Linked DNA regions of Homo sapiens: region 1 is linked to region 2. Evidence: fine-mapped expression QTL. A gene starts in region 2. The other region holds a variant in brackets. All regions are shown on one strand. Distances are from middle to middle.

Region 1 (4,381 bases), 20 kb before region 2:
TGCTGCCGCTGCCCCTCCCAGTCGCCGCTGACTCCAAACCACTGGGCTGCGCCCCTGCGGAAGCAGACAAGGGACAGGTGGGCATACGCTTGTCTACGCCTGTGCACCTGAGTGTGTGGAAGGGGTGATGGCACGTGTGTGCCCGCGTGCCTACAGGGAGGTGGGGGGCGGATCTGCCTGTGAGGCCCCTGGCTGGAGCCCAGTGACCAGATGAGCAGAAGCAGGGGATGACGGGAGCGTGAGGAGCCAGGCTAGGGCCCCAGGCACCCCCACACTGATCCACCCAGCTCCTCGAAGCCCCCCAGCCTCCACACCGTGATATTCCGCAAAGCACATACCCATTTCCCCATCTATACCATGATAATAGGCCACAGGGAGACATTGCTCATTAATGCCGGCCTCCTCCTTCCAGAGAGGGGACGCAGGGACCAGGCCCAATCATGTCCAGGCCCCGAGAATCCACAGGTTGCTGGGTGGGGGGTGCTGGGCTTGGGTGTAGGGGGGCTCACTTGCGGATGCTCTGGGACAGTGAGGCCTGGCGGCGGAAGCCAGGGCGCTTCTCTGAACTCTCCTGCCATCGGCTGCGTGGCTCCTGGAGGCTGACGCTCTTCAAGTAGGCTGGGTTCTTCCTCTTGGGGAGGAAGGAGGGAGGGCAGGCGGTGGTGTGTGCAGCCCAGGTCCTGGGCTGGCTTTTCTTTAGCCTCCTATTCTGAAAACCCTGAGAACAAACTTCAACCCTGATTTATGCCCCAATTTGCTTTCATTTGGAAATATATATATATAATGTGTGTGTGTGTGTGTGTGTGTGTGTGTGTGTGTTTGTATATGTATATATATATATATATATATTTTTTTTTTTTTTTTTTTTTTTTTTTTGGAGATGGAATCTCACTGTATTGTCCAGGCTGGAGTGCAGTGGTGTGGTCTCGACTCACTGACACCTCCGCCTCCCAGGTTCAAGCGATTCTTCTGCCTCAGCCTCCTGAGTAGCTGGGACTATAGGCATGTGCCACCACACCCGGCTAATTTTTGTATTTTTAGTAGAGACGGGGTTTCACCATGTTGGCCAGGCTGGTCTCGAACTCCTGCCTGACCTCAAGTGATCTGGCCGCCTCGGCCTCCCAAAGTGCTGGGATTACAGGCATGAGCTACCATGCCCGGCCTATATATATATTTTTTGGGACAGAGTCTTGCTCTGTTGCCCAGGTTGGAGGGCAGTGGCACCATCATAGCTCACTGGAGCCTCGACCTCCCAGGCTCAAGCAAGCCTTCTACCTCAGTGTCCTAAGTAGCTGGGATTACAGGCATGTGCCACCACACCCAGCTCTTTTTTAATTTTTTTTGCAGAGACAGAGTCTTGCTATGTTGTCTAGTCTGGTCTCGAACTCCTGGGCTCAAGTGATCTGGCTGCCTCAGCCTCCCAAAGTGATGAGATTACAGGCATGAGGCGACCTCGCCCAGCCTCATTCTGAATTTAAAATCGCCATTGTCTAACTTTTCTCCGTCAAGGCCAGCGTGTGTTTTCCTAACTCCTCATCCAGTCCCTCCCCTCTGCACCATGACGCTCCTGCCTGCTGCTGTGTCTTCTGCAGAGCTCTCGGGTGAACGGGGGGCGTTAACATCGCTTCCCTTTATACTCCAGACTGTGCAGGAAGCCCACGCTGCCACAAGCCGGTTTTCAATGAGCTCTTTATGGGGCACTAGACCAGACTGTCAGAAACACTGATCTGTTCTCGTCCTCCCAAAGGAAGCGGACACTGCCTAGGCGGGCTGCTGATGCCAGGGAGACACTGTCCCCTGCTCACCCATGTCAAAGAAAGCCCCCAGCCCTCAGAAGAGAGACTGAGAGTCCAGGCCTAGGGGGTGAAATGAGAACAGCCAGGGCCCCAGGGTTACCAGCAAGCACTTTCTTGGGGCTGGCCCTTCCTGTGTGCCCCTGACCACGATGAGAGTGAGCCCGGTTCCTGGCTTTACTCCCTGTGATATTTCGGGCCCAGGAAGGAGGGGGTAGGGCCCGAGTCAAGGGCTGCACAG[A/G]CAGCAGCTGTGGCTCAGGAAGGAGCCCCTCTGGGAAGTGAAACTGACCAGAAAGTGTCACGTGGGTACATCTGTTACCTACGGCAGAACAGTGAGCCCCCAGGCCAGCCCCCTTACCTCAGGCAGCATGCTGTCCTGCTCGCCAGGGGCCTGGGTCTCTTTCTCGGGTGGCGGGATGGTGATGGAGAGGTTGGGTGGCTTCCGGCTCTGCAGGCGGCTGCTGGACACAGAGGACACGCTCCCGCCATTCTTGTCAGCAGAGGCCATTGTGGGCAGGAGGCGGGAGGGCTGGAATGGAGACCGGGAGAGCAGCGGTGGGCGGTGCGGGGTGGCGCAGTGTCAGGACCCTGACGCCAGGGCACGCAGCCCAGACCAAGAACCAACTTGCCTAAAGTTGGTTCAAACATCTCTGGGCGGCTGGGCGCGGTGGCTCACGCCTGTAATCCCAGCACTTTGGGAGGCCGAGGTGGGGGGATCACGAGGTCAGGAGATCGAGACCATCCTGGCCAACATGGTGAAACCCCGTCTCTACTAAAAATACAAAAAATTAGCTAGGCGTGGTGGCACGTGCCTGTAATCCCAGCTACTCGGGAGGCTGAGGCAGGATGGCTTGAACCCAGGAGGCAGCGGTTATAGTAAGCCGAGATCGCGCCACTGCACTCCAGCCTGGCGACAGAGCAAGACTCTGTCTGAAAACACACACACACACACACACACACACACACACACACACACACACACACACAAAACCAAAAACAAACCATCCCTGGGGACTAAACCCAGCCTGAACCAGGCTGAACCTCAGGCCCAGTGGTTGGAGTGAGGTCTATTTCTGACCATCATTTGCATCCCGGACCATATGGGTCTGGGAGGTCCTCAACTTACTACCTCATTCAATTTCTGATCTCTCCGCTTGAGGCAAGAACCAAACCCTGAAAAGAGCATGAAGATGCAGGCCAGGGACGGTGGCTCACACCTGTAATACCAGCACTTGGGGAGGCCGAGGTGGGCCGAGAGATGAGAAACCTACTGTGCTGGTCCCTGTCCCCCAAGGCCACCCAGTTTATTTTTCTTGTCTTTTTTCTGTAGAGGTGGGGGTCTCTCCATGTTAGCCAGGCTGGTCTGGAACTCCTGGGCTTAAGCCATCTGCCTGCCTTGGCCTCCCAAGTGCTGGGATTACAGGTGCAAGCTCACTGTGCCCAGCCCCAGTTCATTTTTCAAAGATAACTAAAACTGGCTGGGTGCGTGGCTCATGCCTGTAATCCCAGCACTTTGGGAGGCCGAGGTAGGTGGATCACCTGAGGTCAGGAGTTTGAGACCAGCCTGGCCAACATGGTAAAACCCTGTCTCTACTAAAAATACAAAATTAGCCAGGTGTGGTGGCGCATGCCTATAATCCCAGCTACTTGGGAGGCTGAGGCACGAGAATTGCTTGAACCCAGGAGGCAGAGGTTGCAGTGAGCCAAGATCATGCCACTGCACTCCAGCCTGGGCGACAGAGTGAGAAAATGTCTCAAAAAAAAAAGATAACTGAAACTGCCACCTGTCTGGCACTTTTCTCCCCCATAGTGAGAACACTGTTTAACAATAAAAGTGGCATATGCTCATTGAAAAAAAAAAAAAATCACACAGCTGTGTGTGGTGGCTTACACGTACAATCCCAACACTTTGGGAGACCAAGGTGGATGGATCACTTAAGGTCAGGAGTTCGAGACTAGCCTGGCCAACACAGTGAAACACCATCTCTACTAAAATACAAAAATTAGCCAGGCATAGTGCCTCATTCCTGTAGTTCCAGCTACTCGGGAGGCTGAGGCAGGAGAATCACTTGAACCCGAGAGGAAGAGATTGCTGTGAGCCAATCTCATTGCACCCTCCACCTCCCAGGTTCAAGCAATTCTCTTGCCTCAGCCTCCCAAGTAGCCGGGGTTATGGGCGTGAGCCACCAAGCCCAGCCCACACTCTATCATTTTACCTGCATTGTAGACATCTTTCCCTGTCAACACATACGGACAGACCTACTTTTTTTCTTTTTTCTTTTTTTTTGTGATGGGGTCTCATTCTGTCACCCAGATTGGAGTGCAGTGGCGCGATCTCGGCTCACCGCAACCTCCACCTCCCAGGTTCAAGTGATTCTCCTGCCTCAGCCTCCCAAGAAGCTCGGATTACGGGCATGCGCCACCACGCCCAGCTAATTTTGTATTTTTAGTAGAGATGGGGTTTCTCCATGTTGGTCAGGCTGGTCTCGAACTCCTGACCTCAGGTGATCCACCTGCCTCGGCCTCCCAAAGTGCTGGGATTACAGGTTTCAGCCACCACACCCGGCCCTAGGCCTCTTGTCTTTTTT
Region 2 (4,381 bases):
TCTCTGTGTGTCTGTTTGTGTGTGTCTGTGTGTGTGTGTGGTTACACCAGGTACAGACAGGTAGGAGTCACTGAGGGTTTGTTCGTGGGGCTCTTGGGTGGGGCCTGAGGGTGGGCAACTGGGTTCACACCCGAGCTCCACTGCCGACTTCCTGAACAACTTTGTACAAGCCTGGGTGCTCAGCCCTGTCCCTTGAGAGGCTCACAGCAATGGAGGCCACTTTTGTTTTTTGTGCAAATGAAAAGGTGGGAGTTTCACTTCAGCCTTTTACAGTCAAGAGACCAAAAAAACAAAAACAAAAACAAAACAAAACAAAAAAAACAAAAGCCACCAACACCAACAAAAAGAACCCAAGCTCGAAACCTCCACCAGGGTTCCCAGGCAAGAAGGCTGGGTCCAGAAGTGAACAGGATGGGTATAATGGCTACTGCAAGAAAACAGGGAGGGAGGGCAGCGAGGTGGCCCCAGCTCCTGGGCATGGACGTGGCTGCTTCATCCGATCCTCTCCCACCGTGCCAGCCACCCCTCCTTGTTGCCAGAAAACTGGAAGTACATTCCTCCAGCCCAATACAAACAACTCTGAGTCATCCCTACTGGGGGGCCACCTGGCCTGTGCTTTGATGTCTCCCATCTCTCACCTCTGCTCAGCTAACACCATGGGCAGGGGTGCCTCCACCCCATCAGCAGCTGGGCCCACTCCAGGGCTCGTCAGCTAACCCAGGGTGCCCTCTTTATTGCAGGACAAAAGCAGCCTGGGGACCCCCCAGGAATTAGGAGCCCTGATACTCCTTGGATGTCACTTTCAAAAGGTGTACATAATTGGAGGAGTTAGGTGTGAGTTCAGAAGGGAAAATTCCAGCAGGTCACATGGTATCAGGCAACCATGCCAGCTTCAGCAATCCAGCTTTGGGAAAATCTATGGGAAGAGAGCTCGCCCTCTGCCCACCCTCCCAGCCCAGGGATATTTGAGCTCAAGGGCTGCCTCAGCCCAGCCTTCCTGGGAGATTGCCCTGGGGTTAAGCACCCCAGGCCTGGGCTGCAAGGGGGTCCTCTGTTCCCAACCTCTCCCCCACAGCACCTAGACCAGCTTCCTGCAGGGCCAGTGGAGATTGGGAAAGGCGGTGTCTCATGGCACCAAAGGAAGACTCTTGTGAGGGGAATAAGTGCCCTCACACTGCCTTACCCCTCATCTCATTCAGGTTTATTCCAAGTTCCTCCCCTAACCACTCTGGAAAACTGAGGTAGTTTCCCCAGTGAGGGAGCATCATTGAGAAGGAACCTGATGGACCAGCTGCTGCGCAGGGTTTCTCAGCCTCAGCACAGCCCAACACCTTGGGCTGGATAATTCCTCGTTATGTGGGCTGTTCCGTGCCCTGAAGATGTCTGGTAGCGTCCCTGGCCTCTACCCACTACCTGCCAGTAACAACAACACTCACTTCCCCTCCCAAGTGTGTGACACCCAAAATGACTCCAACATTGCCAAATATCCCATGGCAGGCAAAGTCGCCCCTGGTTGAGAACCACAGCTCTAAAACACGCCTCCCTTTCCACTGCCTGCCCTACGGACAGTGAGGGTCGAATAAGGCAGATGCTGGTCTCATTATATTACCAGCAAATGGCACACACTGGGGGCCTGATGCCAGCCGCCCAGGCAACAGCAGCCTCTCCCCAAGTGGGGTCAGCTCCCCACCGCCTTCTGCTCCTCAGACACACCCGCTGCCACCCTCTCAGTAGCTCCAACCCTAGAGCCCCCTCCGTTAATCTTTCATGGAATGGGGCAGGGCCAAAACCTAGGCTTCCTTTGCGCCCTGGCGTGGGAGTGGGGCGGGGTCTGTACCCTAGGGAACTTATCCGTCTCTATCCCAATGCCCTGGGGGAACATCCGAGGGGCCAAACAGGTAAAAGGCAAGCCCAGGGCCAACCTTCCCCAGCCCCTCCATCCAGAAGTCAGGACTCCTGGGTCCAATTTCTGAGCTCCGGTCCAGCCCTGCTGTGTGAGTCCCTCATCCCCACCCCCGCACCTGTTTCCACCTTGGCTGGCTCAACCAACAAACTTCGGCCCCGGTCCGCCCGGTGCTCACCCGGGAGAAAGTGGAGGGGAGAGAAGGGTCTGAACTGCAGGCACTTCTGGGACGCAGGCGGGACTGCCCTGCGCAGTCTCCTCTCTTCCTCCGGAGGTTTAAATCTCTGCCCAATCGTCTTGCCCCTACATCTGGCGCCCCGTCGCCCAGGGACCCCTTAGGCGTCCTGTCCGAGCCGAGCCCTAGGGGCCAGCAGACCGGGTCCAGCGGCCCCGCCGGCGCCGTCTGAGCCAGCCCGGGCCTCCAGCCGAGCCCACGTGGGACCCAGGCGCTCCGCAGGGCGGGCACCGGGCACTGGGCACCCTTCCTGGCCGCGCACCACCGCTCCAGGGCAGGCTCGGGCACAACCTCGGGACCCTTCCGGCGCCTGCGGCTGGGCGGCCGTGAGTCCTGCCCCGCTCGTCGCCCCGCGCTCACCTCCCTGCGGCCCCAAGTCCCCGGGACGCAACTCCGTGCGGCGCCTGCGAGCGGCTGGGCGGTGGCTCCTCGGGGGCGGGGCGGCGGCGCTCCGCCTCTTCCCTACCTGCGCGCGGGCGGCCGGGAGGCGGGGCTGGGCTCCAGGGGGCGTGGCCGGGCTCATGGGGGCGGGGCCTGGACGCAGTCTTTGCTCAGTCGGCTTCCTGGGTTCCTGCCTCCGCCCTCCACCCAGCTGGGTCCCCGCCTGGGCAGAGCCCTGTTTTCGCCTGAGCTGGTCTCTTCAGGGCGCCGTCCTTTCCCTCTTGGCGTCCTCACTCCACCCCAGACCAAACACGTCATCTAGGTCTTGATTGCCGTCTTCAAGTCGCCCCTCCCCATCAAGAAAAAGCACCCAATCTCCCATCCCCTTCTTCCAGCGCCCTCATCCTCAGGCCAAGTGGGCCTGTTCCCTTGACCCTTTTAGTCTGTAGTCACACTCTCTCCGGGAAGCTGGGCCTGAACACCTCCTCTCCCTCCTGGACCCTGAGGCCTCTCTCCTAGCTCTGCTGTGCCCTTGGGTTGGGAACAGGCACTCCGTGGAGGTCCTATCTGCATTTGCCCTGCAGCTAAGGCCAACATTTGTGACTCCTGCCAACCCCCTACACACCCCGTAGAAGCATTGACAGAACCCACCCAGCTCTGGCCCTTCCAGCTGCCATGCGGGCCAGAGCCAGACTGGAGATTGGGGACGCTGGCGACACCTGGCCCCTTGGCTTGGGTCTGTCTGCCCAGGTGGTTCCTTCTCTCTTCCCTGGACTCCAAGGGCCTGCCTCTTGGGACTAGACAAACAAAACCTTGGCCAGGGCAGCTAGGACCGAACTCCAAGGTCTGGATGCCCCGTTCTCAGCCCCAGCGCTTATCATCTCGCCGTCCCTCTCCAGGAGGCCTGGCTAGGCCAGGAGGAGCAGAGTTTGAAGAGACTCAGGCTTGGAGGGGTGGGGGTGGGGTTGTCAGGGCCAAGGCAAAACCTCTGGCCCTTAGAGAGCTCCTGAGCCACCCTGCCCCCCAACCCAAGGACTCTGGTGTTTATTGCTGACCTGGGTGGAGGTGGGGAGCACCTGGCTGCTGGAGATTATCCTGAGAGATGCATCTCTCCTCCCCAGCTCTGGGGCCATGAGGAGGGCACAGGCTGGAAGGAGGGGGAGTGGGCCAAAGCTGGGGTGGGGGTTGCTCCTAGTAACAAATGTAAGGGACCATTTATTGTGCAACCAGCACATCCTGGGGTTATGTGCAGAGAGGAACAAAACCAGGGCCTGCCCACGAAGTGCCAGCATTCTACAGGGAGACGTTGGAACTCAATACTGTAACAGGAAGGGTGAGAGCAGCTAGCCATTCCAAAGTGCTTTAGTCTGTATAATCCGCAGTACAGGTCTATGAAGTGGGTACCATTATGATCATCCCCATTTTAGGGATGAGAAAACTGAGGCAGAGGGAGATGTGAGGGGAGCAGCTGGGGTTTAAACTCGGTCATGATCTGACTTTAGACTCTAACAAACACTGCTGCAAATGCCTGAGCTGGGTTCTCTCTCCTGGAGCTCTACTGGAAGCTCTGCAGGAGTCCCCAGGAGGGGAGGGATTCATGGTGGTGCTTAAGCTGGTGTCAGGGATTTGTCCCATGCAAACATGGCGTGCTGCCCGGCCACATAGGTGCAGGGAGGCTGATTACAGCCTTGGCTGCAGCAACACGCACCTGTGAGGCCAGAGAGGGAAGAATGTTAAATAGGCCAGGGGTATAACTTGTGATAATGTCACACAGCTGTTAAAAGCAACGAGGCAGCTATCCATGTACTGAGAAAGGAATTATCTCCAACTTATAGTAAGTTAAAAAAAAAAAAGCAAGCTGC

What was found. PIP is the estimated chance that this variant, and not a neighbour inherited with it, causes the effect.
Region 1: its variant is fine-mapped to the expression of RHBDF2 in whole blood (TOPMed, PIP above 0.99).

Annotation. Positions count from the first base shown.
Region 1 is chr17:76,479,224-76,483,604 of GRCh38, forward strand. It overlaps RHBDF2 (rhomboid 5 homolog 2), which reads right to left. Exons shown (of 19, transcript NM_001005498.4): 3 at 2,152-2,322; 4 at 510-631; 5 at 1-54. The coding sequence starts at 2,301. Among named protein-coding and RNA genes, the nearest start is that of AANAT, 14 kb to the left of the region's middle. RefSeq lists silencers at 1,550-1,619, 2,440-2,539, 2,600-2,649, 4,324-4,381. The variant A/G (reference allele first, on the strand shown) is at 2,035.
Region 2 is chr17:76,498,855-76,503,235 of GRCh38, forward strand. RHBDF2 (rhomboid 5 homolog 2) reads right to left here and starts at 2,569. Exons shown (of 19, transcript NM_001005498.4): 1 at 2,499-2,569. RefSeq lists enhancers at 1,827-2,496, 2,847-2,986 and a silencer at 2,157-2,796.